Linked DNA regions of Homo sapiens. The protein of the gene in region 4 interacts with the protein of the main gene of each other region in a pairwise test. Each region holds a gene or a part of one and is shown on either strand. Other genes may lie near its edges.

What was found.
Region 1: the proteins of FYN (region 4) and WBP11 interact in binary tests that used the Homo sapiens proteins (3 or more experiments, as listed by UniProt).
Region 2: the proteins of FYN (region 4) and UNG interact in binary tests that used the Homo sapiens proteins (3 or more experiments, as listed by UniProt).
Region 3: the proteins of FYN (region 4) and BDNF interact in binary tests that used the Homo sapiens proteins (3 or more experiments, as listed by UniProt).
Region 5: the proteins of FYN (region 4) and CBS interact in binary tests that used the Homo sapiens proteins (3 or more experiments, as listed by UniProt).
Region 6: the proteins of FYN (region 4) and cystathionine beta-synthase interact in binary tests that used the Homo sapiens proteins (3 or more experiments, as listed by UniProt).
Region 7: the proteins of FYN (region 4) and GLE1 interact in binary tests that used the Homo sapiens proteins (3 or more experiments, as listed by UniProt).

Annotation. Positions count from the first base shown.
Region 1 is NC_000012.12:14,793,044-14,797,231, forward strand, and holds part of WBP11 (WW domain-binding protein 11), read right to left. Parts: intron 3,961-4,188; coding exon 3,764-3,960; intron 2,062-3,763; coding exon 1,928-2,061; intron 1,694-1,927; coding exon 1,494-1,693; intron 880-1,493; coding exon 688-879; intron 1-687. UniProt on the Homo sapiens protein: Activates pre-mRNA splicing. May inhibit PP1 phosphatase activity.
Region 2 is NC_000012.12:109,095,817-109,100,666, reverse strand, and holds the start of UNG (uracil-DNA glycosylase), read right to left. Parts: upstream 3,071-4,850; 5' UTR 2,988-3,070; coding exon 2,856-2,987; intron 2,496-2,855; exon of another isoform or gene 2,341-2,495; coding exon of another isoform or gene 2,236-2,340; coding exon 2,029-2,235; intron 1,479-2,028; coding exon 1,383-1,478; intron 1-1,382. UniProt on the Homo sapiens protein: Uracil-DNA glycosylase that hydrolyzes the N-glycosidic bond between uracil and deoxyribose in single- and double-stranded DNA (ssDNA and dsDNA) to release a free uracil residue and form an abasic (apurinic/apyrimidinic; AP) site.
Region 3 is NC_000011.10:27,658,406-27,662,593, forward strand, and holds part of BDNF (neurotrophic factor BDNF precursor form isoform a preproprotein), read right to left. Parts: intron 1,868-4,188; exon of another isoform or gene 1,751-1,867; intron 1,254-1,750; exon of another isoform or gene 181-1,253; coding exon of another isoform or gene 160-180; coding exon 1-159. UniProt on the Homo sapiens protein: Important signaling molecule that activates signaling cascades downstream of NTRK2. During development, promotes the survival and differentiation of selected neuronal populations of the peripheral and central nervous systems.
Region 4 is NC_000006.12:111,863,287-111,867,474, forward strand, and holds part of FYN (tyrosine-protein kinase Fyn), read right to left. Parts: intron 1-4,188. UniProt on the Homo sapiens protein: Non-receptor tyrosine-protein kinase that plays a role in many biological processes including regulation of cell growth and survival, cell adhesion, integrin-mediated signaling, cytoskeletal remodeling, cell motility, immune response and axon guidance.
Region 5 is NC_000021.9:43,052,378-43,056,138, reverse strand, and holds the end of CBS (cystathionine beta-synthase), read left to right. Parts: intron 1-39; coding exon of another isoform or gene 40-81; intron 82-2,155; coding exon 2,156-2,259; 3' UTR 2,260-2,948; downstream 2,949-3,761. UniProt on the Homo sapiens protein: Hydro-lyase catalyzing the first step of the transsulfuration pathway, where the hydroxyl group of L-serine is displaced by L-homocysteine in a beta-replacement reaction to form L-cystathionine, the precursor of L-cysteine.
Region 6 is NC_000021.9:6,464,269-6,469,133, forward strand, and holds the start of cystathionine beta-synthase, read right to left. Parts: upstream 3,246-4,865; 5' UTR 3,180-3,245; exon of another isoform or gene 1,913-3,179; intron 752-1,912; 5' UTR 676-751; intron 1-675. UniProt on the Homo sapiens protein: Hydro-lyase catalyzing the first step of the transsulfuration pathway, where the hydroxyl group of L-serine is displaced by L-homocysteine in a beta-replacement reaction to form L-cystathionine, the precursor of L-cysteine.
Region 7 is NC_000009.12:128,538,662-128,542,849, forward strand, and holds the end of GLE1 (mRNA export factor GLE1), read left to right. Parts: intron 1-954; coding exon 955-1,037; coding exon of another isoform or gene 1,038-1,053; exon of another isoform or gene 1,054-1,216; intron 1,217-1,613; coding exon 1,614-1,677; intron 1,678-2,440; coding exon 2,441-2,509; 3' UTR 2,510-3,627; downstream 3,628-4,188. UniProt on the Homo sapiens protein: Required for the export of mRNAs containing poly(A) tails from the nucleus into the cytoplasm. May be involved in the terminal step of the mRNA transport through the nuclear pore complex (NPC).

The DNA.
Region 1 (4,188 bases), on a different chromosome or scaffold from region 4:
TGATTCTTAAGACACAGCAGGAGAAAAATTTGTCATTATCAATATTAATATTACATAGTATTATATATTCTGTTGTAGGCCACATAAACAATCCCAAAAGAAGCTCCAAAATTGCTGAGGTTTGACAGAATTGGTGTGCATTTTCCACTGTCAGTACCCATTATGATGCTTAAAATTTTCTTGACAAATGTCCTATTTGAATTTTTTAATAATCAAACACACACATTATAGATATAATATGTTTCATGATTCCACTCATGAGTGTACCTGGGTTATAATTATGATCCTGGTTCATGTAAGATACCATAAAAGGGCTTCAAAGGTAGATATTTAAACAGATTTATAAAATACAACATCAATGTTTTTCTTAATATGGCTACTCTCCTTTCTTTCCTGTAACATACCCATAATACGTTTATGCTGTTGAATAGTTATACCTTTTACCCCAAAGTGAACTTTATTACATAGACATTTTTATTACATACAGTTTAATGCTTTTCCTCATAAACATCCACTGAGTACTTACTGTGTCAAAAACTTTCAAAATTTTAATATATAAGATGAACACAGCTATGATCCCGACTTCCAAAGATTTCAGAGTACTCTCACAGATTCATTAATAAATTAGGACCTTCAGCTTGTTTTCTCTTTATTGATCAATACCATGAATCCTTCATCTGCACATACCTGACTTCTTTTCTTCATTGTTGTCTCTCTCACCATTATCACGGTGCACAAATTCATCCCCGTCACTTTCTCCATCTGATTTGTCGGTGTCACTGTCATCAGTACTGTCATCATGCTTATCTTGATCCATGTCCTCAGGATAGCCATCATCTTCACTGGTGCTAGAAACATCATCATCATGACCTCGCTGGGCTGAAAAGTGGGAAGGGAACATGGAGAAGTAGTATGATTGGACCCTCCACTACATGGTACCCAGAAATACAGAAAATTATGCTATTCAACTCAGACTGTAACAACTTAATTCTTACCAAAAAAAAAAAAAAAAAATTCTTGTATATATAGCTACTCATACAGTCTAACAAAATTTTCCTCTGCCAATAATTTTAAACACTTCTTTTTGGTAATTTAAGATTTTTTTAAAAAGAGTTCTAATTTGAAAACCCATTTCCTCCTTTAGCAACAATCATGTTTGTATACACATACACAGTCAGTGAATGTATACAATGACGCTCTAGTCTGATGACAATAAAGCTAAAAGGGAACCAGATATACAAGTCTTAAAGGATTAGCAGCAAGAGTGACATCTCCAGGAAAAGCCTAATTTAAAACACGATAAACATTTCTATACTTATGTATGATGCTTTTACTTGAGAAGATCCTATGATTTATCCAACTGTATGTATATTAGTTATGTACATGATACCCTCTCATTTACTTTCTAAGTTCTGAGGGTGGTGAACAATATGTTAAACAGGGCCAACATAAAAAATGATAGTTATAAAAGCAAAAGAACAGTCACTTCTCACCAAGTTCAGGACTATATAACATGTCTTCATCTCGCCTACGAGGGGGAAGATCTAGGGCAAAACCCACTTTACGGCCATACATCTGCACGACTTGAGGAGGAGGTGGACCAGGGGGAGGGCCAGGAGGTTTTCTGCCAGGGGGCAAACGTGGAACACCATGTCCAAGAAGAGGAAGGATAGAAACTGCCCGAGTTGGAGGTCTGTTAAAAAAAAAAACAAAAACAAAAAAACCCCCACAGTAATCACTTAACAGTAATGAGATATTTATTTTCTCTTCTAAACAATTTTCAAGGGATTTCTTATTTTACATTTAATCAAATGTCACACTGTTTACATCCATATTGTCTTTTATTTCCCTCTGCATTAATTTTGGCACTGGACAGTCAACTTGTGCCTTTACTAAATGCTCTCTGATTGTGACACTGCTTCCTTACCCATAGGCTGAGGTTTTCTTTAGGATAGAGGGTGGCTGGGCACCAGGAAGTGGAATGTCCTGGATCAAAATGTTGGAAGGAGCATGTGGCATATCTGGCAAAGGAATACTCTCCACTTCCACATGCTGAGCATTCTGAAACAGAGAACCATTCAGTAGTATGATAAAAAAGTCATCTACTAACTAAACACTAAAAATGACAAGTCAGCTGTTTCGTAACTTGGACATGCTTTCCAACTAACATAAATATCACCAAAAACCCCCAGAAAAATAACCTTACGTCAATACTTCCACATTGTCAAAGAACTGAAAGAAATCTTTACTTCTAAAAACGTCAGAACCCAGCTGTTTTTTTTCTCCTCTTATCAGGTAATTCTTTTTGGATGATTCGAAACAGCTGTTGTCTAGAGAAAGCCAACTGTTACAAGTATCTAGCACCAGAACTACCCTATTTAACATGTGATAGAAAAATACATGTCAGGCTGGGCGTGGTAGCTCACACCTGTAATCCGAGCATTTTGGGAGGCTGACGCAGGTCGATCACAAGCTCAGGAGTTTGAGACCAGCCTGGCCAATATGGTGAAACTCCATCTCTAATAAAACTACAAAAATTAGCCAGTTGTGGTGGCGTGTGCCTGTAGTCCCAGCTACTCAGGAGGCTGAGGGAGGAGAATTGCTTGAACCTGGGAGGCAGAGGTTGCAGTGAGCCAAGATGGTGCCACTGCACTCCAGCTTGGGCAACAGAGTGAGACTCGGTCTCAAAAACAAAAAATAAACAAAAAAAAGAAAAATAATATATGTCAACTAACAAATAGTATATATCCAGTGGTGGAGGTTGGGCTCATTAGCTTGCCTATGTTGAATTTCTGTTGTGTATTAGCTTAGTTTGACTAAGCAAGGTAACCTGTGCCTTCATCTGTAAAATGGGAGACATATTACCTCCTTTACAGAAATTATAGCATTTGATTTTTTCCCATCTTTATTTTGAGGTAAAATTTACGAAATTTACAAATTCAGTAAGTTTTGACAAATGCATATACCTCATACTCCTTCCCAATCCATCTCTAATATCATCCCCCAAGGCAACCACGGCTACATTTTTTTTTCCTGCACAGATTATCTGTGACTATTCTAGAATTTCATAAAAATGAAATCATAACAATGAGATAAACTTAGCATGTTTTTGAGATTTACTCACAATTTTTCTTTTTTTATTCCATGCTGTTTTGAGTATTAGATTATTCCTTTTATTGCTGAATAGTATTCTATTGTATAAATATGCTACAGTTTAATTATCCATTATCCTATTAGTGAACACTTAGGCTGATCCAAGTTTTTGAATTAATTTCTTCTGTTTAAATAAAGAGGATTAGATTTGCAGGTTCACACAGTAGGTATATGTTTAGTTTTAGAAGAAACTGCTATAAGGAAGAGGTTCAACATGACATTCTCCCATTAACTTTTTAAATCTAAGTATAGGCTGAGCATCCCTAATCTGAATATCTAAAATGCTCCAAAATCCTAAACTTTTTGACTCCCATATGATGCCATGGTGGAAAAATCCACACCTGACCTAATGTGATGGGTCGTAGTTTTGTTTCATGCACAAAATTTATAAAATTATCTTCAGGCTATGTGTATATGAAACATAAATTTCATGCTTAGACTAGGGTTCCATCCCCAAAATATATGCAAATATACACAAAAACAAAACAAAATATAAAAAAAACCCAACAACCCTAAATCCAAAACACTTCTGGTCCCAAGCACTTTGCATAAGGGATACTCAATCTGTATAATATTTTAGTTTATCTCTCAAAAAAAAAACCTTGATTACCTTGACAGCATCAAAATATTGGCTAAGTTGAGCCCTCTTCTGTTCATATTCTACTTCTAGCTTTCTCAATTCTTTGTAAATATCTGGATTCTCTTTTTCATAGAGTCGTAGAATACGTTCAAAGGTTTCACGCAGCTTTTTACGCTTGTCTTTCAGTACTTTCTCATTTAATTGTGGCTGTTGCACTGGGTTAAACTCTAAGAGAAAAAGTAGATTATGGAATTAAATATAAGAGGCCACTTCAATTAGGTATCAATAGGTTACATGATAAAAACCTCCATATATGCTAAAAAATTTTTAAGAGATCTAGACACCAGACATACTCTTTTCAATTTTATTCGAAGAACTACAATATTTATTAAAATCCCCACCCTTTTTAGATGGCCACTAATTTTACCTTTCTCAGAAATGCCACCTAATTGACT
Region 2 (4,850 bases), on a different chromosome or scaffold from region 4:
GTTTTTGAGCATTCCCTCAAAATATTCCTTTTAATATTCCCTGTTTATACTGATTACTGGTATTCAGAATAGGGCATTCAAACAAGAAGCAAATTAGTATTGATCTTAATAGGATTTAATTTAGCTTCAAAACCAAAGAGCTAGATTCTAAATTCTTACTCTAAAATTAAGCTTACGAGATTTTCTAAGTATTAGGTGTGGCTGCCTTATCAAGATGATTTATTCACCTATTTCACTTCTATGTCATTTCACAGATATTCATTAAATCACAAGATTCTTGCCCCAGTTTACAAAACGGGGGAGGAAAACGGGTAAGAAACCTAAAAGTCCAGTGTCAGCAGGTGCTAAATGCATCGTAGCAGCTCAGAGGAAAACTGGATCACAGAGGTGGCAGGCAACGGACTTCAATTCAAGGAGGTGCCACAGAGGCATCTACTTGATTTTTAAGAGACAGAAGTGGGGAGGGGTTTGCCACACTGTCCAACTCTGGAGTGGGAGAGTGGGAGGTGGAGGTAAGGCTGAGAGGTAGGACGTGGCCCTATTTAAAGAGGGTTGCTCTGCTTTCATAGTTCAACAGTGAGAAGCCACGGTTTTTTTTTTGTTTTGAGACAGGGTCTGGCTCTGTCGCCCACGCTGGAGTGAAGTGGTGTGATCTCAGCTCACTGCAACCTCCGCCTCCTGGGCTCATGCGATTCTCCCACCTCAGCCTCCCAAGTAGCTGGAATTACAGGCGTGCGCCACCATGCCCGGCTAATTTTTGTATTTTAGGAGAGACCAGGTTTCATTGGTCTTGAACTCCTGACCTCAAATGATCCTCCCACTTTGGCCTCCGAAAGTGCTGGGATTACAGGCATGAGCCACCGTGCCCAGCCCCACGAACTTCTGAACACAAGATGGATGAGAGCCGCCAACCAGCAACTGTTATATAAGACAAACTAAAGCAAAGGGATCTGATAACAGAACCACAAAACTGTTCAGGCCAGAAGTCAAGAGCTTGAAAGTGCTAACTATAAGGCAGTGTGGTCAGGTCAAGGTGGGGTTGACTATAACAAGCTGCAAAAGATTTAACTGCTTTGTGTGTCAGTTTGAACTTCACCACCACCATAACATCTGACACCGCGGGAGGTTAGTTTCAGGATTTAAAAAAAATACAAGAAATAAGAGCACAGGATGTACATAGTTTTCCTTTTTGCCACATAAATACCACGTGGTAAACATTAAAAAGAGTAAATACAGGCTGAAATACAGTCAGCCAAACCTCGGGATTTCAGTGTTTTATTTACTACTGAATGATGGACTGTGGCTTAACTCCAGTGTCCCTAATTTAAAAATACTATTTGACTCCTTCTCCCCAATAAAAATTATCAACAAGTTGTACTTACATCTTTTATGTCACACATCTGGGTCCAGGTGAAGACTTGGTGTGGGGGTGGATAAACAGTGTAATGCTTTCTTTCTTCTGCAACAAATCCCATTAGCTGATTTAAAGATAAACTAGACTTAAAATCAGATTCTCATTGGAAACCATAAGAATTCAATAAGAAAGCTTCTAGTGCAAGTTATTTGGAACATCATTAGTTCTTTGTCATGTTATGTCCAAATTCTTTTAAAAAACAACAAACAAAAACAGTGCCTGCCCCCCCACCTAAGTGGTTCAATCAGGTCAATTCCTTGCCTCTTTCTCTGGGCTGGGTCCTGACAGTGCCACTCCTCTCGGCTTTTTAAAGCTCAAGCCAGGTTTCATTCAGGATGGTTGGTGATTTTACTACGCCAGCCTTTCCTGGACAATAGACTATGTGACTTAAATGAATCCATGATATCATCTCGCGGGTCGTTAACAACTTTAACCAATATAAAGCTGCAGAGTGAAACATCATGGCTTTCTTTTACCCCCTTTGTGAGTAAAGGAGGTTGAAGGGGGTACAACCTAAGCCTACGGAAACATGAACTTGGCCGGCTACACTAACAAGACAAAAGGGCCGGCAGCCTCCACATTTACCCTTATGGAAGGTGCATTTCCATATTTACCTTGATAAAATACGGTTTCCCGAACTCCCCGCTGAGGTGCTTCTTCCAGCTCTCTCCAAAGCCCACGGGCACGTTGCGGGCCGCGAGTCTGAGCAGGGCCGCGGCCTTGTTCCTCTGGATCCGGTCCAACTGCTCGGCACTCAGCGGCGAGGAGGGCGGCGTCCCAGGCTCCTCCTGCCCAGCCGGGGCCTTCTTGGCTGGGATGGCCTGCAAGTGGTCCCCGCAGAGGCGGCTCAAGAGCTGCAGCGGCCCCTTCCCAGGCGTCCGCAGCTTCCGGCCCAACCCCCACGGCCCAAGGCAGAAGACGCCCATTTGTGGAACAGGTCCCAGCAAAAGCGGACAGTAAGAGCCCAGGGCTGGGCCCGGTCCGGGAATTGGGAATTAGGTTCTAAACTGGAGCGGGGAGACGGGCTGGGAGGCGCCCTATGGCTTCCCGAGGAGCGTCGCGGTGACTGGGAACCCTGCACAGAGGTGCCCCGCCCCCGCCAGACCCGCCCCACCGCGTCCCCACGTGGTCTTTTCGCGGCAAAAAACCTCCCTCTGGGTCCCGCCCCCTCTCCCCTCTGATTGGACAGCGCACCGAGCCAGGAGGGCCTGCGGCGCGCGGATTGGCGCCATGGGCCCCGAGACGCGTTCCCATTGGCTGGCCCTTTAGCATGGCGGCCCATGGGGGACAGCGGCGGCTATTTTGAACACGTGGAGGCTATTTGGAAAGCGGAGCCCGGGTTTACCGAGTCAGAGGCGCGATCCTGCACGCCCTCCGTCAGGCGGGGCCCACCGCCTTCCTCCCCCTTCACCCCCTAGCCCCGGCCCAAGCCGCGCCTCACCGCCGCATCTCCGCTTTCCTCAGGCACCCCAGCCACGCCGGTCCCCTGGACGGCCGGCTCGGGGCTGGGGGCGTGTCGCTTCCTGGCGGGGCTGGGGGAGAAAAAGGAGTAGAGCGTCTTCTGGCCGATCATCCTGGAGCTGAGGAGGCAGCGAACGCGCGCCACCCGGGAACCGGCGAGGCTAGCCCTGGCTGTGGCTGTGGCGGTCAGCAATTGGCGCCAAGCGGCCCGCGCATGCTCCGAGCGGGGGGCTTTGCTGGGGGCGGGGGGCGGTGGAAGGCCCAGTGCGCATGTGCGGGAGGGGCTGGAGTGCAACGCCCCTGGGAGGAGGTGGGGCGTGCAACGGTGCCCGGGGGCCTATTCTTTCATTCGCTTTGTGCCTTCAGCCCACCTCTGCTCTTTGGACAGGCTCTTAAGGCTCAGCTGCAAGAAGAGAAGACTGGTCAGGCGCGGTGGCCCACGCCTGTAATCCTAGCGCTTTGGGAGGCCCAGGCTGGAGGATCGCTTGAGGCCAGAGGGTCTGAGCTGTAGTGAGCTTTGATCGCGCCAATGCACTCCAGGCCTGGGCGACAGAGCGAGACCCTGTCTCTCGGTGGGGTCGGGGGGAGGGGGCTGGGAAGAAAAGTTCCTGCCCCTTAGGGGTGTTGTGGGAGTGCAATGAACAATATAATAATATTGTCCGGGCTTGATGGCTCACGTCTGTAATCCCCGCACTGTAATCCGAGGCATCTCAAAAACAAACAAACAAACAAATACTATTATATTTTGTGTGTGTATTTTGTTTTTGAGACAGAGTCTTGCTCTGTCGCCCAGGCTGGAATGCAGTGGTGTGATCTCAGCCCACTGCAACCTCCGCCTCCCGGATTCAAGCGATTCTCGTGCCTCAGCTAGGATTATAGGCGCGCGCCACCACGCCTGGCTAATTTTTCTATTTTTAGTAGAAATGGGGTTTCACCATGTTTGCCCAAGTGTGTTTTGTATTTTTTTAGTAGAGATGGGGGATCTCACCATGTTGGCCAGTCTGGTCTCGAACTCCTGACCTCAGGCGATCTGCCCACCTTGGCCTCCCAAAGTGCTGGGATTACAGGCATGAGCCACCACACCCAGCCAATATTATTTGTTGAACTGTTATATACATTTTCTCACGCAATTTTCATGGCCTATTTTATGACGATAAACTAAGGCTTAGTGCAGTCAAACATTTTGCCTAATGTATCAGGCTTGTGGGAGACTTTCGGGTCATAGAGGTTAAACACCAACGATTTGTCTTCCAAATGACACCACTGTACCGAACCTCCTCCCACCACTACTAATACACTTAGGATTCTCTTTCCCTCCCTCACATCCAAACCATCCATATCTGCTTTTGGTTCTTTCTCCAAAGCAAACCTCAAATTCAACTGCTGCTCTTGCATCTCCTAGCTACAGAAGACCAGCTGGGAAGCTGGTGTTCTCTTTTCTAGAGAGAGATTTTTACATCATGACAATACCTGGGGCCTGGCCCAGCTCGGTGGCTCACGCCTGTAATCCCAACACTTTGGGAGGCCAAGGAGGGGCGTATCGCTTGAGCACAGGAGTTCGAGACCAGCCTGGCAAACATGGTGAAACCCCGTCTCTACTAAAAATACAAAAATTAGCCAGGCGTGGTGGCATGCATTTGCAATCCCAGCTACTCAGGAGGCTGAGGCAGGAGAATCACTTGAACCCGGGAGGCGGAGGTTGCAGTGAGCTGAGATTGTGCCACTGCACTCCAGCCTGGGTGACAGAGCAAGACCCTGTCTACAAACAAAAAAAAGAAAAAGAAAAAAAAGACAATCCTTAGGTTAAAACCCTTCTTTGGTTTTCAAAAAGGCTTAGAATAAACCCCAGCTTCCTACCCAGGTCTCAGTGCTGCCTCCTCTCTGATGGAAGCCCCCACTACTGAGTCCAGCTCCCAGCACAATTGCTGGACACACCCAGCTTGTCCCCCTGTGGCCTGCACACCCTTGCATTCAC
Region 3 (4,188 bases), on a different chromosome or scaffold from region 4:
TGAACCTGCCTTGGGCCCATTCACGCTCTCCAGAGTCCCATGGGTCCGCACACCTGGGTAGGCCAAGCCACCTTGTCCTCGGATGTTTGCTTCTTTCATGGGGGCAGCCTTCATGCAACCAAAGTATGAAATAACCATAGTAAGGAAAAGGATGGTCATCACTCTTCTCACCTGGTGGAACTGTAGGGAGAAAGCAGAAACAAGACAGAAAACTGGTTAGGGCTTTCTTTCACCGGGATGCCATGTGGCCCATCTGATTGTAATTCCAGGCCATTCTGCAGGGTCAAGGTTTTTTTATGTCTTGGTGATAAACTCCAGCTGCACCAGACACAAATCAGTGTCAGTAGTGTGCTGTATGTGGTTTAATATAAACCAGAGACATGCAGTGTTTCCCCCAAGATCTAGCATATAAACCTGAGATTAGATGGCTTCTAAGCAAGTGCAAAAATTGTGGCTTCAAGTTCTCCTTCTTCCCACTTTAGCAGCTTTGTAAGTTTAATTTTTAATGATCTCTGCTCATGCTGTCACGAGAAACACAAAATCATAAATGTTACTAAGCAACAACTGCAAGTGTAATTAATAGTAATTTTTTTCAAGTTAGCAACATGGTCCTTTGCAGGAATGTGTGACAGGAACAGCAGTGGCCTGAGGGGTCTGATGGGCCTTTCTAGCTATGTGATGTCTAGGCATGAATAGCACAATAAAACAGCAGTTGGGGAACTATAAGGAGCCTTTAAATTGACTTTTTTTTTCCTCTTCCCACAGAGATACTCTATTATAGCAAAGAAGAAAGATAATTTCATTGAGCCATCCTGTTTTACAGGTAAGGAAACCAAAGGCCATAGAAGACTTGCCTTATGTCATGAAGAAAGTTTATGTTAGAACTCAGGGCTCCCAATTCCACTGTTCTTTATTCTACACCTGGGTGGTCACAACTGAAAATGTTTTGCTTATTTCTAAACAGAAATCATTTTTTGACATGTTCATTTTAATGATGTGTCTATGCCTGGGGCTAATGTCATGAAAACAATGTGTCTGGTAAGGAGAAAACTGAAAAAGTCAGCATTAAAAAGACATTTAAGTCCATTTCAAATGCCTCCCATATGCAGACTCCACTTTATCTCCTCCAGTTCTCTAAAACCCTTCACTCCTTGGCTTTTTCTGGCTAATACACACATCTAGCTAAGAAAGCTCAACTTTTCTTTTTACTAGAGATGTTCTCTCTGTGTGTGTGTGTGTGTGTGCGCGCGCGCGTGTGCGCGCGCTCTGAGTTTATCCTACTTTTAAAAAGCTGAGTGGTGTTTTACACATTTTGGAATAGGCAGCTAGTGCTTCTTTTTCTGCTTTTGAAGTTTCCTGGGAAGTCCCTTAAAAGCATACCACAAAATTAATCTCTTCCTGTTTGCCAGAGGGTTGCTCTACTCTAAATTTGGCTCTACATCTACAAGCATGCTCTAGGAAGCCAATTAAAATGGATGAACAAGCAAAATGAAAACATACCTATGGACCAACCCAAGGTTACCGTCAGGTGGTGAAGGACTTCAGAATCACTTACCTGAAGCATTGTGTTTCTCAGCAGCAAAGAGTAGCATCCCCAGCCCTGACCCTAATTTTATTCCTACTTCTCAGTTCTGAGGCATGGACTTACAAAAAGACACATACATGCAATGGCCATCATGATATCCAAATAAGTAGGAAAAGGAACTGTGTTTCTGCCCATGAAGTTTTACTGAATTCAAAGGCAACCTACCTCCAGTCAATAGGTCAGAATGCAGAAATGGCTGAAAACTCTGGTATTGAAAAGCAAATGTTCTCCACTTTTGTAAGAAATAACATTTTCAACCACTAAGAGACTTTATTACCATCCCTAAACACACAAAAAAATTTCTTTTAGATTTACTCTCACTTTGCACGAATAGCAAACATGCTTAGAACTGCTTAGATTGCACAATGTTCTCAGATTAGGAAGGGAAAATTGGTTTGAATAAAATACAGATGTCTATTCCGCTAACAACTAAATCTTTGTGAATGTTCTGAGTCCTGTACCATCAAAGAAATAGATCGTCCATGGGGGTTTCTATTTCTGGTAGATTGTACTTACACACTGAATGAAAAAGCTTTCTCCTAATATTCCCAGTCCAAATAAAAACAACCCAAGGGGCACCTCTTATTTAGGTCAATAAAAGTTTGCAAATGTGGAATACTTTAGCCATCTACATCACACTGGTAGAGACTTTCTGTGATCAGCTATTTTTTAATACCATATTTAATCAAATCTAAGATACCATCATTGTGAAACTCGACATTTTATATATCACTAAGAAAGCAAAAATGCAGCCTGGGTGACCAGAGTGAAACTCCATCTCAAAAAAAAAAAAAAAAGAATTAATGAACTATAGTTTAATACATATTTACTAAGTGCCCACACTAACTACTTAAAAATGGTCCAAAATACTGAGGCATCTTAAGCTGTTGGAAAATTGTTTTGTTTTCACCACTACAGTAATGAGTCTTTGAATGATACCATTTTCTATACTTGGCTTCTAGTTTACTCTGCCTTTCACTGATCTTATCTTTTTATTAATAACTTTATGAGAAAAATAATTAATGCTTTATATATTGTTCTCTCAGTTCCATGAGCAAATATTTCAGAGGGAAAATTGGCATCTGAGTAAATATTACTTGGCTTTCATTCTGAAGCCCAAACATGGGTATTCCTCAAGCTGAGCATCTGCATAGAATTAGGAATTAACACAATGGTGACAAAGTCCAACCCCACATTGCAAGCCCTGCTCTCTGAGTGGCACTTCTGCAATTCTAACTAACTGTCTACTCACTTGTAAGGCCTTGAAGTTAAGTGGGTGCAACACCAAACTCAATACTTTTTGTTGGAACAGTGGTATCTCCTACCTTTTCTAACAATGGTTCCCTGATATTTTGGGCAACCCAGGCATAGGATAGAAATCCTGGAATCAAGTTTGACAATATATTTCCTGCATAGCCTTCCAATCCAGTCAGTAAAGATGTCCTGTTAATTTTTCCTTTAAAATATTTGTCCTGGCCATCCCTTTTTATCCATCCCACTGCCACCATCTTGGCTCAGCCCTCACCACCTCATTTTGTGACCACAACGTCCCGATGCTGTATCAGACACTCTTTCTGCTCCATTCAACTCTGATGACCACTTCCTGGGTAACCACCCTAATACTATTCTCTTACACAAAAACTGGCAATGGCATTTTTGTTCTATCTGCTCAAATCTAATGTCTTCTCTCTGATACTCAACTCTCTCCAACATCTGCCCTCACCCTTCTTAGCTAACTTTCTCAAACTACTCAATGCTTCATCACTTCTGCTCCGATCAGGACAGAGTCCTTGGAGTGCCGTACACATTACTGCCTCCTGACTTGTTCCATTCCTCTGACAAACTCCTCTCTCCCTCTCACTTGCTGCCAAAATCTTGCTTATCCTTCATGATCCAGTTCAAGCATCAAATCATGCATGCCCCTTTCTCTAATTACTCCAGCATACACTGCCTTCCTTCCCTAAAATTCCACATTACATCTTACGTAGTACTTGATTCCCTTCTCACTTGTTTTGTTTTGTTTTTTTCCCAAGACAGAGTCTTGCTCTGTCGCCCAGGCTGGAGTGCAATGGTGCAATCTCGGCTCACTGCAATCTCCACCTCCTGGGTTCAAGCAATTCTCCTGCCTCAGCAGGAGGTAGCTGGGATTACAGGCGCCCACCACCATGCCCGGCTAATTTTTGTATTTTTAGTAGAGACAGGGTTTCACCATGTTGGCCGAGCTGGCCTACTCACTTGTTAATTGTTAACCGTATTTGCTCATTCTAGTCAGTCTTCAGCTGAAAGGTAAGTTCTTTGAGGGAATGGATCATGTCTGAGCCCCCATAATGCTTAACAGAGAAAAATGTAATAGCAGTACTCAGTAAAAACTTACTGATAGGTTTATTAAACTAAGAGAAAAGACAGTTTGGATATAATTTTCGTAAGAAGCCTTTTCATTTGGAAAGATCAGTGAACCCATTGAAATTCTCAGGTAAATATAGGCTGTGCTAACCCCAAATTATAAACTCTAAGGCAGTGGTCCCAACCTTTTTGGCAGCAGGAACCAGTTTTGTGGAAGACAATTTTTCCACGGTCTGGGAGTAGCAGGGTGGATGGTTTTG
Region 4 (4,188 bases):
ATGTGCATGTATGTGCCTAGGTACAGGCAATACATCACACAATCTCTAGAATAACAAAAAAATAAAATTAAAACAAAAATCAAATTTCACAAGTGACAACATTTGAAATTGTTATTGCTTCTAAATAGACATGACATTTGTGTGGAAATGAAGTTGTTGGTGTTTATTTGCCTTTTCAGTAGAATTTAAATTGGGCAGGATTTCACAGAAATACAGATTCAGTAACTTTCTGGGGATTAAAAGAAGAAAGGATTGGGAAAAGTGCCCTGGGCTTTGTTGTGGGAAAGGAGATCTGGCTCATTTTTAATTTTCCATTAAAGCCCTACTTTTCAATATAAAGCAGATGGAATCCTTATACAACTCCATGAAAAGCCTACTATTTTTGGATACCTCAAAGATGGAAGCTCTGAAGAAAATGAAAGTGTTTGACTTCATCAGATAAAATCCCACCAGCATATTCAAAAGGCACAGGTACTTAGAAACCTTTAAATTACAAGTTAAGAGGTCTTTCTGTGCGGATTTATGATCCCGGGCCCCTCTCAAGCTTCGGCACTCTCTGACTCTTGCTGACTGATGGTTTCTACCACTTCTCCGCCTGCTCCCACTACTCTAGTTGGGACTCCCTATGTTTGCTTCCTTCCTTGTCTTCCAGAGCTGCCTGCTGACTCTTCCCTTCTCACTGTTGTTCCCAGATACAGAAAAGATGAGAAGCGTTCAGCCCTGCCTGGCCCATACCCACTGAATCCAAATGAGGCCTGGGGATATGCATTCTATGAGATCTTCAGCATATTTGTGCTCTTTTCTTATTATGCGATAAGACCTGGTTCAATATATTCTGTTTGTCACTCTGCTGGGGTGGACAGGAGAACAAAAGGGCTGATGTTTACTGTGCAGAGTCTGTGAGATACTAGGCTGGGAGCTGCTGGGCACCACCTCCACCCTCACAGTTTACAATCTCATTAAAGAGATGGCGCAAATTTAGTGTGAAGAACATAGATGTTGGAGCCAGACTGCTGTGTTCAGATCCCAGCTCTGTCACTTACTCTGTGACGCTGACTAAATCACTTAGCCTCTGTGACTCAGTTTTTCCATCTTTTAAATGGGATAATAATGGTAGTACCTCCTAGAATTGTGCTGGGTGTTATGTTGACAAATCAATCATAAAATAGAGTCCCTGACTTCCAAAGAGCTCACAAGTCGGTGGGAAAGGCCAGTGCCTGCCCCACTGTCCTACCCAGCTGGTTCCCTCAGCCTTACGAATCAGGCTATGATGAGGATGATGATGAGGTGGTAATCAGGTGCTCTGGGAGCCCAGAGGTAAGAGAGATGGGAGGGCTTCTCAAGAGGCAGTAGGTTTTGAGGGGAGTCATCAGAAAGGGTGAGACTTCCACGGTGGGTAAAGGTGCCTCTGCATCCTGCAACACAGGACACAGAAGTAACTGCAAAGCAAAGGCAAGGAGGCAGGGAATGAGGAACCACAGCTCTGGAGCAAAAGCAGGAAAGAGTTTAGCAGTCACACAGACCTGGCTTCACTAGTTATTAGCTGTGTGACCATGAGCCATTTGCCTCTCTGAGCTTCAGTCTCCCCATTTGACTAATGGGTATAATAATACATGCCTCCTAGAGTTGCTATGATTAAGTACATGACTGTATGTAAGCACCTAACACATGCCTCCGAGTTCAATAAAATGGCAGGTGCTATTATTTCTATGGTGTATTCAGGGAGGAGTAGGTAGCTGTGGTATGCTCTCTACTTTTTTGCAGTATCACAGAAAGGAGAATACAAGGCCAGAAACAAGTAGTCCTCTAAAAAAGCTTTCTGAGTGCAAATAAGCAATGAGCTAGGACTTTCCCATGGTACTTTTTTCTCCCCCAAACTCTTACAGTTAATAGGTACTCAATACATATTTGCCTAAACCAACCAAGTGCTGCTCGAGGTCATGGGTTTACAAGGGCAGAGTATGTGATGATCTCTGCTTCCTAAGTATACCCAAGAAGGAGACCCAAGTCAGGCTTCACTTCCAGACGGAGGTGCACAGCAGGCTGTTCTGGAAGCAGGCTGAGACAAATGGGAAAGCGCTCTCAACCAAATATTACAACAACTCGGAGTCTTACAAACATTGTTAAAGTTTCATGAGTCAGTAAGCATTATCTTTTCCTCCCACGTTTTTATTAGACCATAAATCCAATTCAATTTATATTCTTCCAGGATTACTGCGTTCTAATCAAGTCCACAGTGTCACTTATTCCTAAGTTGTCTATATTGCATGTCACCCAAGTCCATTTGGATAATACCATTCAGGCTTCTCATGTGTTTTAGTAGCTAAAAATTAGATTTGCTCAACTAGAAACACTAAAAAAATTATTATAGTCCTCTAAATAACACAAATCACTCTTTTTTCATAGGAGCCAAATGTGTGAAAGTCATAACCCATAGTTTTTTCTTACTTTATAGTTCATTCTACCTTTAGAAAAGTCACAATGACATTCTGAAGTCAAACTCGAGGGATTTCCATTGTAAATAGGTTAAAATTCTGGTTATCTGACTAAAAGAAACCCTTTTACAGGGTTAACGTCAGAATGCTTTCATGTTTTCCGTTCTCAAGAATGAAGGTGCTGCATTTCTTACTAAAAATGCTGTTTTCAATCATACCATGTAAGTAAATTTCCCAACTTTTCTAACAATTTTTGATTCAGAACCGACAATCACCCAAATCTCTTTCTAAAATATTCAAAGTTTCCTTACATACACACAATATATTGTCATCATCCCTTCCCTAAAGCATGTATGTCATATGTGTATATATACACATACACACATACATATGGATTAACAACAGCAGCAAACACATAGCTTTTCCTATGTGTAGGACACTGTTCTGAATATTTGACATGTATTAACTCACTGAATCCTCACAGCAACCCTCTGAGGCAGGAACTACTATCTCCATTTAAAGATGAAGAAAAGGAGTCACAGAGAGACCAGGTAACTTGGCCCAGCCCACACAGCTGGAAAGGGTCAAACCCGGACCCTACCCCAACCTCATGCTTTTGTTTTGTTTTCTTTTGTTTTGAGACAGAGCCTCACTCTCTCGCCCAGGATGGAATGCAGTGGCACAATCTCAGCTCACTGCAACCTCTGCCTCCCAGGCTCAAGCGATTCGCCTGCCTCAGGCTCCCAAGTAGCTGGGATTACAGGCCTGTGCCACCACACCGGGCTAATTTTTGTATTTTTAGTAGAGACAAGGTTTCGCCGTGTTGGCCAGGCTGGTCTTGAACTCCTGACCTCAGGTGATCCACCTGCCTTGGCTTCCCAAAGTGCTGGGATTACAGGCGTGAGCCCCCGTGCCCGGCCCCAACCCCATGCTCTTAACCACACCACACACCTGGGCTGAGAGGTGTGAAACCTGGTGACTTTGCCATCTTGGACAAGTTGCTTAACCTCTTCATTTAACTTCATTTTTCCTCACGAGTAAAATGAACATGTTGACTACATGATCTCTAAGATTCCATGGCCTGTGCCCATGAAAAACCGCAAGAGTCCTTCATGGTTGTATGTTCTACAGGCTTTGATATGTGTTTTTACCCTGGCTGGGGAGCAACAGATTTCTAGACTTCTCCCCCTCTAGTTCTCCTGATGCTGCTTTGGGCAGGTTCAGATATCTTCAGTGCTAAATCCAACTGCATTTTTTGTTCTTTATGTTGCTCAACTCTGAAGCTGGTCTAGTACTCCGCAGGCTCCTCTCCCATTCTGGGCCTGACTCCTCCTCTGTTCCTGGGCTTGCTCTCTGCCCTTTCTGCTCTTTCTACTCCACACATTCTCCCTGGGTGACCTCACCCACATCCATGGCTTCAATTTTTGTAATTTGTTTGCTAACGAATTTATATTCAAGACCTAGTCCTGGCTGGGAGCAGTGGCTCATGCCTATTATCTCAGCACTTTGGGAAGCTGAGGTAGGTAGATCCCCTGCAATCAGAAGTTCGAGACCAGCCTGGCCAACGTGGCGAAACCCCAATAATTAGCCGGGTGTGGCGTTGGGTGCCTGTAATCCCAGCTACTCGGGAGGCTGAGGCAGGAGAATCGCTTGAACCTGGGAGGTGGAGGTTGCAGTGAGCTGAGATCACGCCATTGCACTCTAGCCTGGGCAACAAGAGCGAAACTCCGTCTCGGGAAAAAAAAAAAAAAAA
Region 5 (3,761 bases), on a different chromosome or scaffold from region 4:
CCCCAAGTCTAACCCCATCTCCCGTCCTTGGCTCTGCAGCGCAGGACCAGGCCTGGGCAGGCGTGGTGGGGGGGCCTGCAGGTAGGTATCACCCACCCCTCAGAATGGCTCTCAGGCTCAGATTCACAGCCTCCCCATGGCAAATGGAGGCCTTCCAGGGTCCTGGACCCACCCCCAAGCTTGGGTAGGAGGGATCCCCCTCTTAATCTCACATTTACTTGTGTTTGAACATCTCAGAAAAAAAAAAAGATGCAAATTCCAATGTCAGGGTCCCCAAATCAAGTCTTCCTGGAGCATGTCCACGCTTGTCACCACCGTCTGTGGCTGCTTTCAAGCACGTCAGGGCTGCGTGCTCATAACAGAGACGGCACGGCCCCCAAGACCTAAAATACCACCAGCTGGCCCTTGTCGGAAAGTCCCCTGGCTGGCCCTAGTCCATTGACTCTGGGCCGAGCTGCCAGGGCCACAGAAGCCTGCGGCACTCAGGGCTCCCAGGGCTCCCTTCTCCAACAGTTGCTGTGCCTCCGTTTCCCCAAAATGCAAGGAGCTGATCTCATCTGTGTTCCCTATCTTTTCCTGGGGCTCTAAGTGGGCCACCCCAAGGGACCTCTGCCTACAAAGAGAGGAGTGACAGCCGTGGCGGAGTTGGGACGGGCTCCGAGGGCTCTTCCTCACCCGCACCTTGCTCACCCCTCTGTGCCTCATGACAGCTGGTGTAGGGTCCTGTGGAGACGCAGGACCAAGAGGATGTGTGGGGAGCGGGGAGAGAGAGGGAACGAGATCTGTGTTAAGGAACTGGATCATGAGATCACGGAGGCTGACAAACCCTGAGATCTGCAGGGTGAGGCGGCAGGCCGGAGACTGGAGAGCCAGCAGTTCAAGCCCCAAGGCAGGAAATTCCACCTTTGGTTCTATTCAGGCCTTCAACTGCTTGGGTGAGGCCCTCCACAGTAGCACACGTTATCTGCCTCTTGACTCTTGTGCTAATCCGGAATCCCCTCACACATGCCCAGAACGACGTGTGACCAATGCCTGGGCTCCCACGGCCCCGTTAATCTGTATTAAAATTAACCATCACAACAGCCCTGTCTGGGTATGTGGCATGGGAGCCTCGGCCAGCATTAACACCGGGTCTACGCTTGCCAGGAGAAAGCAGGAGGGGTGAAGACAGAATCAGGCCAGAGATGGAAGCTGTGTGCTGCCCATGGTGGCAAGGGGTTTTTGTCTGTTTTTAGAGACAGGGTCTTGCTCTGTTGCCGACTGGAGTGCAGTAGTGCCATCATAGCTCGCTGCAGCCTCGACCTGCTGTGCTCAACTGATCCTTCTGCCTCAGTCTCCCAAGTAGCTGGGACCACAAGCGTGTGCCACCATGCTCGACTAATTTATTTTTAAAAATATTCTGTAGAGACAGGGTCTCAATATGTTGCCCAGGCTGGTCCCAGACTTCCGGGCTTAAATGATCCTCCCACCTTGGCCTCCCACAGCGCTGGGATCACAGGTGTGAGCCACTGTGCCCGGCCCTGTAAGCGGGTTTGAATTTCATGCCCACACCGGCTCTGAAGTCATGAGTGCCTCAGGAGCTCAGCCGGTGGGCCAGGGAAGGGTGTGTCCTGACCTGCGGTGGGTGGAGCCTGGCCTGGGGCCCAGGGGACTCACGTGGTGGGTAGAACCTGGCCTGGGGGCTCATGGGGCTCATGTCAGAAGAACACTGGCTTGGCCAGGCACAGTGGCTCACGCCTGTAATCCCAGCACTTTGGGAGCCGAGGCAAGTGGATCACTTGAGGTCAGGAGTTCAAGGCCAGCCTGGCCAACATGGCAAAACCCCATCTCTACTAAAAATACAAAAATTAGCTGGGTGTGGTGATGTGCACCTGAAGTCCCAGATACTCGGGAGTCTGAGGCACGAGAATCACTTGAACCCAGGAGGTGGAGGTTGCAGTGAGCCAAGACTGCACCACTGCACTCCAGCCTAGGGGACAGAGTGAGGCCCTGTCTCAGAAAAAAAAAAAGGAACACAGCCTTCGCCGCTGGGCTCCAGCCACCCTGGGCCCCCATGGTGCACAGGTGCCCCAGGCCCTCAGGAGCCTCCTGCCCCGCAGCAGCCCACCCAGCCTCCCACGGCACCTGCAAACCCACTGCCTCGTTCTCCCCTCAGACCACAGCACCGGGAAGTCCAGTCAGCGGCAGATGGTGTTCGGGGTGGTCACCGCCATTGACTTGCTGAACTTCGTGGCCGCCCAGGAGCGGGACCAGAAGTGAAGTCCGGAGCGCTGGGCGGTGCGGAGCGGGCCCGCCACCCTTGCCCACTTCTCCTTCGCTTTCCTGAGCCCTAAACACACGCGTGATTGGTAACTGCCTGGCCTGGCACCGTTATCCCTGCACACGGCACAGAGCATCCGTCTCCCCTCGTTAACACATGGCTTCCTAAATGGCCCTGTTTACGGCCTATGAGATGAAATATGTGATTTTCTCTAATGTAACTTCCTCTTAGGATGTTTCACCAAGGAAATATTGAGAGAGAAGTCGGCCAGGTAGGATGAACACAGGCAATGACTGCGCAGAGTGGATTAAAGGCAAAAGAGAGAAGAGTCCAGGAAGGGGCGGGGAGAAGCCTGGGTGGCTCAGCATCCTCCACGGGCTGCGCCGTCTGCTCGGGGCTGAGCTGGCGGGAGCAGTTTGCGTGTTTGGGTTTTTTAATTGAGATGAAATTCAAATAACCTAAAAATCAATCACTTGAAAGTGAACAATCAGCGGCATTTAGTACATCCAGAAAGTTGTGTAGGCACCACCTCTGTCACGTTCTGGAACATTCTGTCATCACCCCGTGAAGCAATCATTTCCCCTCCCGTCTTCCTCCTCCCCTGGCAACTGCTGATCGACTTTGTGTCTCTGTTGTCTAAAATAGGTTTTCCCTGTTCTGGACATTTCATATAAATGGAATCACACAATTGTGGCCTCGTGTCTAACTTATTTCACTTTGCATGGTATTTTCAGGCATGTCAGAGCACGTGTACTTGGTTTCTTTTTGTGGCCGAATAATAAGCCATTGTGTGGATAGACCACATTTTGGTTCCTCATTTATCGGTGATGGACACCTGGTTGTTTCTGCTTTTCAGCCCTTGTGAGTAACCTGCTGTGCACCTTCATGGCCGAGTATGTCTGGACACCTCTTTTCACTTTTCTTGGGTGTGTACCCAGGAGTGGCATTGCTGGTTAATGTGGTAACTCCATGTTTAATTTTTTTTTTTTTTTTTTTTTGAGATGGAGTCTTGCTCTGTTGCCAGGCTGGAGTACAATGGCACAATCTCGGCTCACTGCAACCTCCACCTCCTGGGTTCAAGCGATTCTCCTGCCTCAGCCTCCCGAGTAGCCAGGATTACAAGTGTGCACCACTGTGCCTGGCTAATTTTTGTATTTTTGTAGAGACAGGGTTTTACCATGTTGGCCAGGCTGGTCTTGAACTCCTGACCTCAGGTGATCCACCTGCCTCAGCCTCCCAAAGTGCTGGGATGACAGGCGTGAGCCACTGCGCCCGGCGTCCATGTTTATTTTTTGAGGAACCATCAAGCTGTGTTCCATACTGGTCACACCGATTTCCATTCTCACCAACAGTGCCCGAGGGTTCCAGTTTCTCCAGGTCCTTATCAACACTTGCTATTTTCTTGTTTTAAATTATTATAGCCATGCTAGTGTGTATGAAGAGGTGTCTCATTATGGTTTTGATTTGCCTTTCTGTAATCATTGGTGATGTTGAGTGACCA
Region 6 (4,865 bases), on a different chromosome or scaffold from region 4:
CTATTCACAAGTCAAAACGTGGAGGCAGCCCACGTATCCGCAGACGGATGAACACACACAGTAGGCTCATACACACACTAGAATATTACTCAGCCCTAAGAGAAATGAATTCTGGCACACGCTACAACACGGACGAACCTTCAGGACATTATGCCAAGCGAAATGAGCCAGACACAAAAGGACAAATACTGTGTGATTCCACTTCCACGATGAGGCACCTGGGACTCTCGAACGCCCCTCTATGTCTGGCAAATTCATAGAGATAGAAAGTAGAATAGAAGCGGCCAGCGGCTGAGGTGAGTGGGGAAGGGAGGGTGATTGTTTAATGGGTGCAGAGGTTGTGCTGGGGATGATGAAAACGTTCTGGGTGGAGATAGTCACGGTGGTTGCCTCACACTTAGAAATGGTTACAGTGATCAGTGTTACGTGTATTTTACCCAGGATTAAAAACACACACACGCACCTGAAATAGATGAGACAGAAAAAAAAAAGAAGAAAGCAAAAAGAAAGCCAGGCGAGGTCCCATCTGCTGCCCCTCCTCTGGGGGGACAAGGAACCCACGACCACCTCCCACCTTGCCTTCTTCAGAGGGCCCAGGACTGGGCTCAGCCCCGCTTCACCCTCCTTTGATTCCCCACATTCAACAGGAAGACTAAGTCCACAGCCGTCACTCACCGGACAGATGGTGCTGACAGTTCAGCACCGCTCAAACTCTGTAAGGAGACGTGACAACAGAATCTGTCATGGGATCCTGGAATAGAAAAGGGCAGTGAGGAGAAAACTCTGCAAATCTGACTCAAGCGCGGACTTTGGTTAATGTCAACAATGGTTATGTGATCGTGGAATTGGCTCATTAATTGTAACAAATAGGCCGGGCGCGGTGGCTCACGCCTGTAATCCCAGCACTTTGGGAGGCCGAGGCGGGCGGATCATGAGGTCAAGAGATCGAGACCATCCTGGCCAACATGGTGAAACCCCGTTTCTACTAAAACTACAAAAATTAGCCAAGCATGGTGGCGCACACCTGTAGTCCCAGCTACTCGGGAAGCTGAGGCAGGAGAATCGCTTGAACCCGGGAGGGGGAGGTCAGTGAGCCGAGATCGCGCCACTGCACTCCAGCCTGGCAACAGAGCGAGACTCCGTCTCAAAAAATAAAAATAAAAATAAAAATAAAAGAAAATAAATAAAGTAACAAATATACGACATCAGTTTAAGATCTTAATAACAGGGGAAACTGGGGGAACTCTATCTATTTTTTCAATTTTTCTAAATCTAAAACTGCTCTTTTTTAAATTTTCGAGACGGAGTCTCCCTCTTGTTGCCCAGGCTGGAGCAGTGGTGCGATCTCGGCTCACTGCAACCTCCACCTCCCGGGTTCAAGCAGTTCTCCTGTCTCAGCCTCCTGAGTAGGATTACAGACGCCCGCCACCACATCCGGCTAATTTTTGTATTTTTAGTAGAGACGAAGTTTCACCATGTTGGCCAGGCTGGTCTCGAACTCCTGACCTCAGGTGATTCGCCCGCCTAGCCTCTCAAAGTGCTGGGATTATAGGAGTGAGCCACCCCGCCCGGCCTAAAACTGCTTTTTTTTTAAAAAGCCTATTAAAAAAGAAAAAGTTGCGGAAGCCGGCTGCCTTTGGAAGCCCTTGGAGTATGCTGTTCAGGTGGTCTCTGCGCACAGGCCCTACCCAGGCCTCAGCTTGGCCTCCTGGACTTCCCAGCCTCCCCTCCACCTTTGCAATTCACCAGACTGGGGGCCAAAGCGGCTTCAAACGACCCTGGAGGGTGGTGCTTTCAAGGTCTTGGGACCACGGACTTGTCTGAAAATCCGAAGGCGTTGGATCTTCTCTTCCCCAGAAAAATGCACCCGCTTTCAGAGGTTCGTGTCCCACGCTTTTCTTTCTATCCCAACCTTGTAAGAAGCCGCCGCCGTGAGCGGAGCAGCACCTTCCTCCGCGGGTCGCGGGAGTCACCTACGGGAAGGGACTCTCCGTCTGGCACAGGCCCTGTCTGGCCTGGGGCGCGCATGCTCCGCCGCCGAATCTTCCAGAAAGCCGTGGACCCGAGGCCCCGGCAGACGCAGGCGGCCCAGCGCCTTGCTTTTGGCCCCTCGCCTCGCCCTGGAGCCCTCTCTCGCAAGGTAAGGGACTGCCGGGAACGCAGATCGCAAGCCGTCGGGGCTCTGTAGAACTCAGAGGCGCTCGGCGGAAAGCTCGCCAGGCGACCCAGACCCGAACCCGCGGGCTCCCCAAGACAACAGCGCCGGGCGGCCGGATGCACGTGCGTCCCGGGAAGGCGGGTTCAGCTGGCATCGCCTGGCCGGTTCCGTTCGCTCCTTAAACCACAAGACCCCCTTGGGGTCACGACGTTCCCGGGGCACCCCTGCACTCGCGCGCCAGCACTCCCGGAGGGGCCTGGGGAAGGCCACGCGCACGGAGAGCGGGAAACTCCTCTAGGTTTCCAGGTGGGAGATCCAGACCCTACTGAGACCCGGAAACCGCCGGCCACTCCGCCTCCGGAAGCGACACTTTGGGACAAAGCTGGGGACAAGTAAGCCCAGAAGATCCTCGGGAAGCCGAGAATTTCGCGCTCCGCTCTCCCACCCACGCTCCGCCTCCCGCTTGCATCCTACAGCTCAGCTGCGGTCTCGCCTGGGGCTCAGGGAAGTGAGGTCCCAGGAAAACCTCCATCCCCCGAACGCAACCTGGGCAGAGCCCCGCGTCCCTCCCCCAGCGGGCACCCACCTCGCGTGCCGCCCGCGCAACGACAGCGTTTACCGCCACCCCACACGGTCCGCCAAAAAGGGCGATTTGCAAACAGCCATTTCCCATCCACAATGCAGCGAACTCAATGCTGGGCACCGAAACGTGCATCTCCCCCGGATTCCCACCCCGCGTCCCTGCTCCACGCTCCAGGACTCGCCGCCAGTGGGGTCCACTCCGCCGGCGCGGGGGCTGGGGTGGGAGCCCGGGGCCACGTGCACGGCCAGCCCCCATCTTCTGGGCGGTCAAGACCGCAGGCGTGGGCGCCGGTGGGGCGGGGGTCTTGGGAGACCCTGTCTCGCCGCCTTTCGGTGCAGATGATGCAACTCTGGGCGGAGGCGCGGAGAGGGAAACCGGGACCCAGTTGAGATCCTCTGTCCAGAGAGGGGAGCGAGTCTCGGTGGGGCCGGATCTCACCTGGACGGATACATGGAAAAGAGGGGCGAGCGGCTGCCCCGACTGCGGCGAGGCGGAGACGGCGACCCCGGGGTGGCGGCCTCGCGGGGACCCACGGCGAGGGGAGCAGGCGGGCGGTGATTGGCGGAGAGGCGGGGGCGGAGGCCGGCGCCGGCCAATGTCTCGTGGCAGAGCACCCGCCCGCCCAGCCCCTCCTCCACCCCACCCAGCCCGGGCCCCTCCCCCCCACCCCTTCCCCACCCCGCCGCAGCCTGGGACCCTCCGGCCTGCCCGACCCCCGCCCTCCCCGGGACCCCGGCATGCCCCCACCCCAGTCCGCCCGCCCCATTCCCACGCCCTGTTGATTCAACCGCAGACCCGGGTCGCCGCCCCCTCCCCCGCCTTCCTCTTCGCCTGAGCCCGCCCGCCCCGGGTTCCAGCCACCCCCACCCGCGGACCCCGGTGGTGTCTTCTACCTGGTGTTCCGATGCTGTTTTACTTGGTTAACTTCTTGCCCTTCGGGAATTTAAGGAACCTTTACTGATGAGCTTGAAACGTGCGTCCTGGTGGGTGGGGGGCCCTGCGCGTCCTCGAGGACCGACCCCGAGGGCGTGTGTCGCGGGCCCGGGAGGGGGCGCCGCGCCGGGGCGGGACTCGATGGCCGCGCTCTGTGGCCGCCGGACGCCGTGCGCAGCGCCCCGCGTGACCGCGCCCAGAGCCGGGTCCGAACCCCGAGCCGAGGCGCAGAACAGTCGCCTTGCGCGGCTCCGGTGCGGCCCACGGCCAGGGGCTGCCGGGCGCTCTCGGGGACGGGGCCGACTCCGCGCAGGGTGGTAGCAGGGGCGCCCCGCGGGGCTCCTTCGCCAGGTCCCGGAGGCCGCGGGCGGGGCCGTTTCCCAAACATCGTGCTCTGGACTTTCAGAGGCTGAACCTGATCCCCCCGCCCTATGGCTAAATGGGGGATCCCAGGCCCCCGAGTCTCCCCCCGGACCTGCAGCGAAAGACACGGACGGTGCCCATCAGCTCTGGGCAGAGGAACGTGCTGCGCCTCCGCAGCGTCCCCGGCTCAGGTCAGAGCGATGTTCCGCAGCCTCCTCCGGCCCGCGCAGCTCCGCCGCGGTCTCTGCCACGTGGGGCTCACAGTAGGGGAGGGAGTGAGACGTGAATTAGAATTAAATGTCCACTGGCAGGAACTGACACGAAGAACAATAAAGCCGGCGATGTGGGGAGGGGACAGGGATGGAGTTACATCATGAAGGCTCTGGAAGGTGGCATTGGAGGCCGGGATCGCGCCACTGTCCTCCAGCCTGTGCGACTGAGCGAGACTGTCTCCAGAAAAAAAAAAAAAAAAAAAAAAATCCTGTCCAGTCTTTATAAGAAGAGAGACGTGGACACAGACACGCGGAGAGAAAAAGGCCATGTGGAGATGGCGGCAGAGATGAGATGTGCTGCCACCAGACGAGAAATGGCAGGGATGGCTGGCGGCCTCCACAGGGCTGGGAAAGGTGGCCAGGGCCTCCCTCAGAGCCTTCAGCCAGCCTGCGGGAGAGAAAGATGATAAACGGTGTTGTTTTTGTTGTTGTTGTTTGAGACAGAGTCTGTGTCACACAGGCTGGAGTGCAATGGTGAGATCTTGGCTCACTGCAGCCTCAGCCTCCCGGGTTCAAGCGATTCTCCTGCCTCAGCCACCCGAGTAGCTGGGATTAC
Region 7 (4,188 bases), on a different chromosome or scaffold from region 4:
GGTGCACACCTGTCATCCCAGCTACCGAGGAGGCTGAGGCAGGAGAATCGCTTGAACAGGATCTCACTCTGTCAGCCAGGCTGGAGTGCATTAGTGTGATCATAGCTCACTGTAGCCTCAAACTCTTGGGCTCAAGCGATCCTCCCACCTAACCCTGCCAAAGTGTTGAGATTACAGGAGTGAGCCATTGCACTCAGCCAAGAAGACACTTCTTATAGAAGAAAGCCTTGGGGTACATGCCATAACAAATCTGGAACCATTTGATCTATAGTGCCAATAGTTCCTAGTTACCTTAATAGCTCCTGACGTCAGCCAGGTGCAGTGGCTGACAGCCTTTGGGAGGCCAAGGCAGGCGGATCACTTGAGCTCTGGAGTTCAAGACCAGCCAGGGCAATATGGTGAAACCCTATATCTACCAAAAAAATACAAAAATTAGTGGTGTGTGCCTGTGGTCCCAGTTACTGAGGAGGCTGAGGTTGGAGGATCACCTGAGCCCAGGGAGGTTGAGGCTACAGTGAGCTGTGATCATGCCAGTGTCCTCTAGCCTGGGCGACAGAGTGAGACCCTATTTCAAAAAAAAATAAAAAGCTCCTGAAGTCACCATACATGAACAATGATCCTGTATCATTTGAGAACACAAGTGGTATTCTGTATACTCTCCTTACTAAGTTTGGGAGGTATACCATACCTTTAGGAAGGCGTCCATTCATTAGAGGAAAAGAAGAGTAGTTCATTAAGACCTGATTGGTTAAATGGAGATATTGCCATATAAAGAGAAATGCTTTAGAAGAAAGTTGGGTGTTTCCATTTATTCCCTTGTTAGCAAGTTCAGTGGCATTGTGGTTGAAATTTTTGATAGGTGTGAAAGATGAAGGGCTGATTGTGCTTTATGAATCTGTCCTGTGAGTGTGAATTTTCATTTTCTGCTCTGACAGTGCCTGTCTTTCCCTCTAGGTGTGTGGGAATGCCCTCATGAAGCAATACCAGGTTCAGTTCTGGAAGATGCTAATTCTCATCAAAGAGGACTACTTTCCCAGGTATCAGGCTTGTTGAGCAGACAGCAGGGGATTAAGTAACTCATAACCAGGCCTCAGATACCCAAGGGTGCTATTACCTGCTGGTTTTGATTCAAGTTAAAAACACCTGTACTAAGTATGACATCTTTCCTACTCCAGTCCCTCTCGTTGATATTTGAATAAATGCTTTTGAACCTTAATGAGAGTCTGTCTTAAATATCATTGCCCAAACAAAAACACAAATTAGGGGCTGAGCACAGTGGCTTATGCCTATAATTATGCCTATAATTGCAGCTCTTTGGGAGGCCACAGGAGGAGGATCACTTGAGCCCAGGTGTTCAAAACCAGCCTGGGCAATATAGCAAGACCCCATCTCTACAAAAAAAAAATTAGCCAGGCATGATGGCATGCATCTATAGTCCCAGCTACTAGGGAAGCTGAGACAGGAGGATCGCTTGAGCCCAAGAGTTCAAGGCCTCGGTGAGCTATGATCGCACCACCGCGCTGCACTCCAGCCTAGGTGACAGAGTGAGACACCGTTTCCAAAAGATAGGTGTATATCATAGGTGTGATTCATGTGTCTTTCTCTCCCTGTAGAATTGAAGCTATCACAAGCTCAGGACAGATGGGCTCCTTCATACGCCTCAAGCAGTTCTTGGAGGTAAGATGCCCTTAGACCAACATGCCCCACACTGTTGTTGGGCTGGAATGCACCTATGTCTGACAAGTCTTGGACCTTCCGATGCTCTGATTGCACTCTCTTCCTTAGTTCTTCCAAACCCTTCTTTTTGTTCCTAATTCCCTCTTAACCTTTGGAGTAAGGGCTGCCATTTCCTCTTCTTTATATGTATCATTCTCTATACTGCCTGTGAGAAAGCTATGCTGAGATGAGTAAAATATATTTAGTGTATCTCCTCTCATTAATATATATTTTTTTTGCATGTTGGCCAAGGTTATTTTCTTAGTCTCAGGTCTGGGGAATTGGTAAGTGTCATCACTTTTCTCCATGAGATCAAACTGCACTTTCAGTTGGACTCTTCCCCTACTTCCAAGTGCCAAGAGATTGTAAAAGGTTAATTTTGACAAAGAATTTAGAACACTATAGTGGGTTTGCCAAGATAGCCTGCTGACTTTTCAGCTTCTCAAAGCTCGATTGTGAAAATAGTGATTGTGAAAGATGAGGTTAGCCTGTAGGGAGACAAGAGTGGGACAGGAATAATAAGAGCATTTCATTTGTTGTCTGGAGCAGATCATGCAGAAGTGGACATCTTATACAGAACCATCAGTCTTACTGGCTTTTTCCTTTTTGTTCACTGTTCCATAGGGCTGAAATATGGTGTTCCTCAAAGCTTCTTTTAACCATTAAGTGTTGGGAACACTGTTATCAGAAACTCATTCTGTTTTCTTCATCTTTCCCTGACCAGAAATGTTTGCAACACAAGGACATTCCTGTCCCCAAGGGCTTTCTGACTTCCTCCTTCTGGCGCTCCTGATGTCACTCCATCACCCACCATCACCGCTGCTGCAAAGAGGCAATAATAAAGGAACTGAAGACAGCTGTATTTGGGAGAAGTCATGTCAGATTCAGAAATTTGCCATTATGTATTTTTATGTATTTATGCCTTGTGACTAGGAGAGGAGATTTTCATGGGTCACAAAATTCTTGGAGGTCCCTTAGTAGATTTGGTAGTTCCTTAAGAGATCCACGTGATAAAATAAATGGAGTTGGCCTTTCTTGTTTTTTGCAAAAGTGATAAAAGGTCTTTAGCACTTGGTCTCCTCCCTTGTCTCTAGTGTCTTTCAGAAAGTTGGCAATACCTTAACAAATGCACTCTGAGCTGGAGGGAGCCCACCATTTGCACCCACCTACCCACCCTCACCCCTGTTCAGATGAATTTCCAGAAAGAGCTAAGGCTCATAAGGTTCCCTTTTAAGTATTATTTAATAGTTGAGGCCAGATACTTACATGCAAGTCTGGGTTATGGTTGTTTTGCCTTTCTCAGCTTGTGAAGTCATTCTAAAGCTAGAGGAAGTATGTGATATACACATGGACTAAGGCTCAGGTGACACTATGGCTAGATTAACATCTGGGATTAGGACTGGAAACACATGTCATTTTGAACTAAGGGAAACTCTTTGTCATCCTAATTTGGAATTTGGTCCCTGGATGGCTAGGGATCCATGAACCAGGCAGGTACCTTTTTTGTTTTTGTTTTGTTTTGTTTCTTTTCTGTTTGAATTAAGATGGGCTAAGATGGGGCTTGCAACATTAAACATGAGCTGAGCATCCATAAGCATTGAATTGGGATTAAATAAAGATGTTGGGCAGGAACTGAACACTGCTAATATGATGATAAATATGCCTGACTAAAGCCACTACAGAAATCCAGAGATTGGCTGTTAAAATTTGTTTTGTGGAAAGACTAATTCTCTTTGATACTGCAGAGGCAGTGGCCATGGATCTGTTCCTCTGTGCTAAATGTCTTGTGGCAGGGTGTGTTTGTGGGGGAGTGTTCACTGGTACTCTTGAGTGGCCTGAAGTGACCCATTCTATGAATTGTTAATTAAGGTGCCAAAAAAAATTAATAATAAAGCTTGGTTTTTTGAAAAACCCATTGCTGATATATTGGTTCAATATGATCAATTTCCTCTGCCTTGAGCTATGTAAATCATGATAGTATACAAGTCCAGGTATAGAGCGGTATGCATTTATTCCTTTTGGTCTTCTTGACCTACACCTTGGGAATATTACTTCTTTTTCTGTCATTTCCTTTTTTGGAATTATGTACTAATAACTGACCCTATTTTATCTAGCAAGAGATGTGAAAGTGTATTAAAATCTTTGAAAGACACAATAGGCCGTGCTTAGTGGCTCATGCCTGCAGTCCCAACACTTTGGGAGGCTGAGGTGGGAGGATTGTTTAAGTCCAGGAGTTCAAGACCAGCCTGGGCAACATAGTGAGACCCCCATGTCTAAAACAAATTTTTTTGGCCAGGCGCGGTGGCTCACGTCTTACCAGCCTGGCCAACATGGCAAAACCCTGTCTCCACTAAAATTACAAAAATTAGCTGGGCATGGTGGTGTGTGCCTGTAATCCCAGCTACCCAAGAGGCGGCTGGGGCAGGAGAATTGCTGGAACCCAGGAGGCAGAGGCTGCAGTGAGCCGAGATC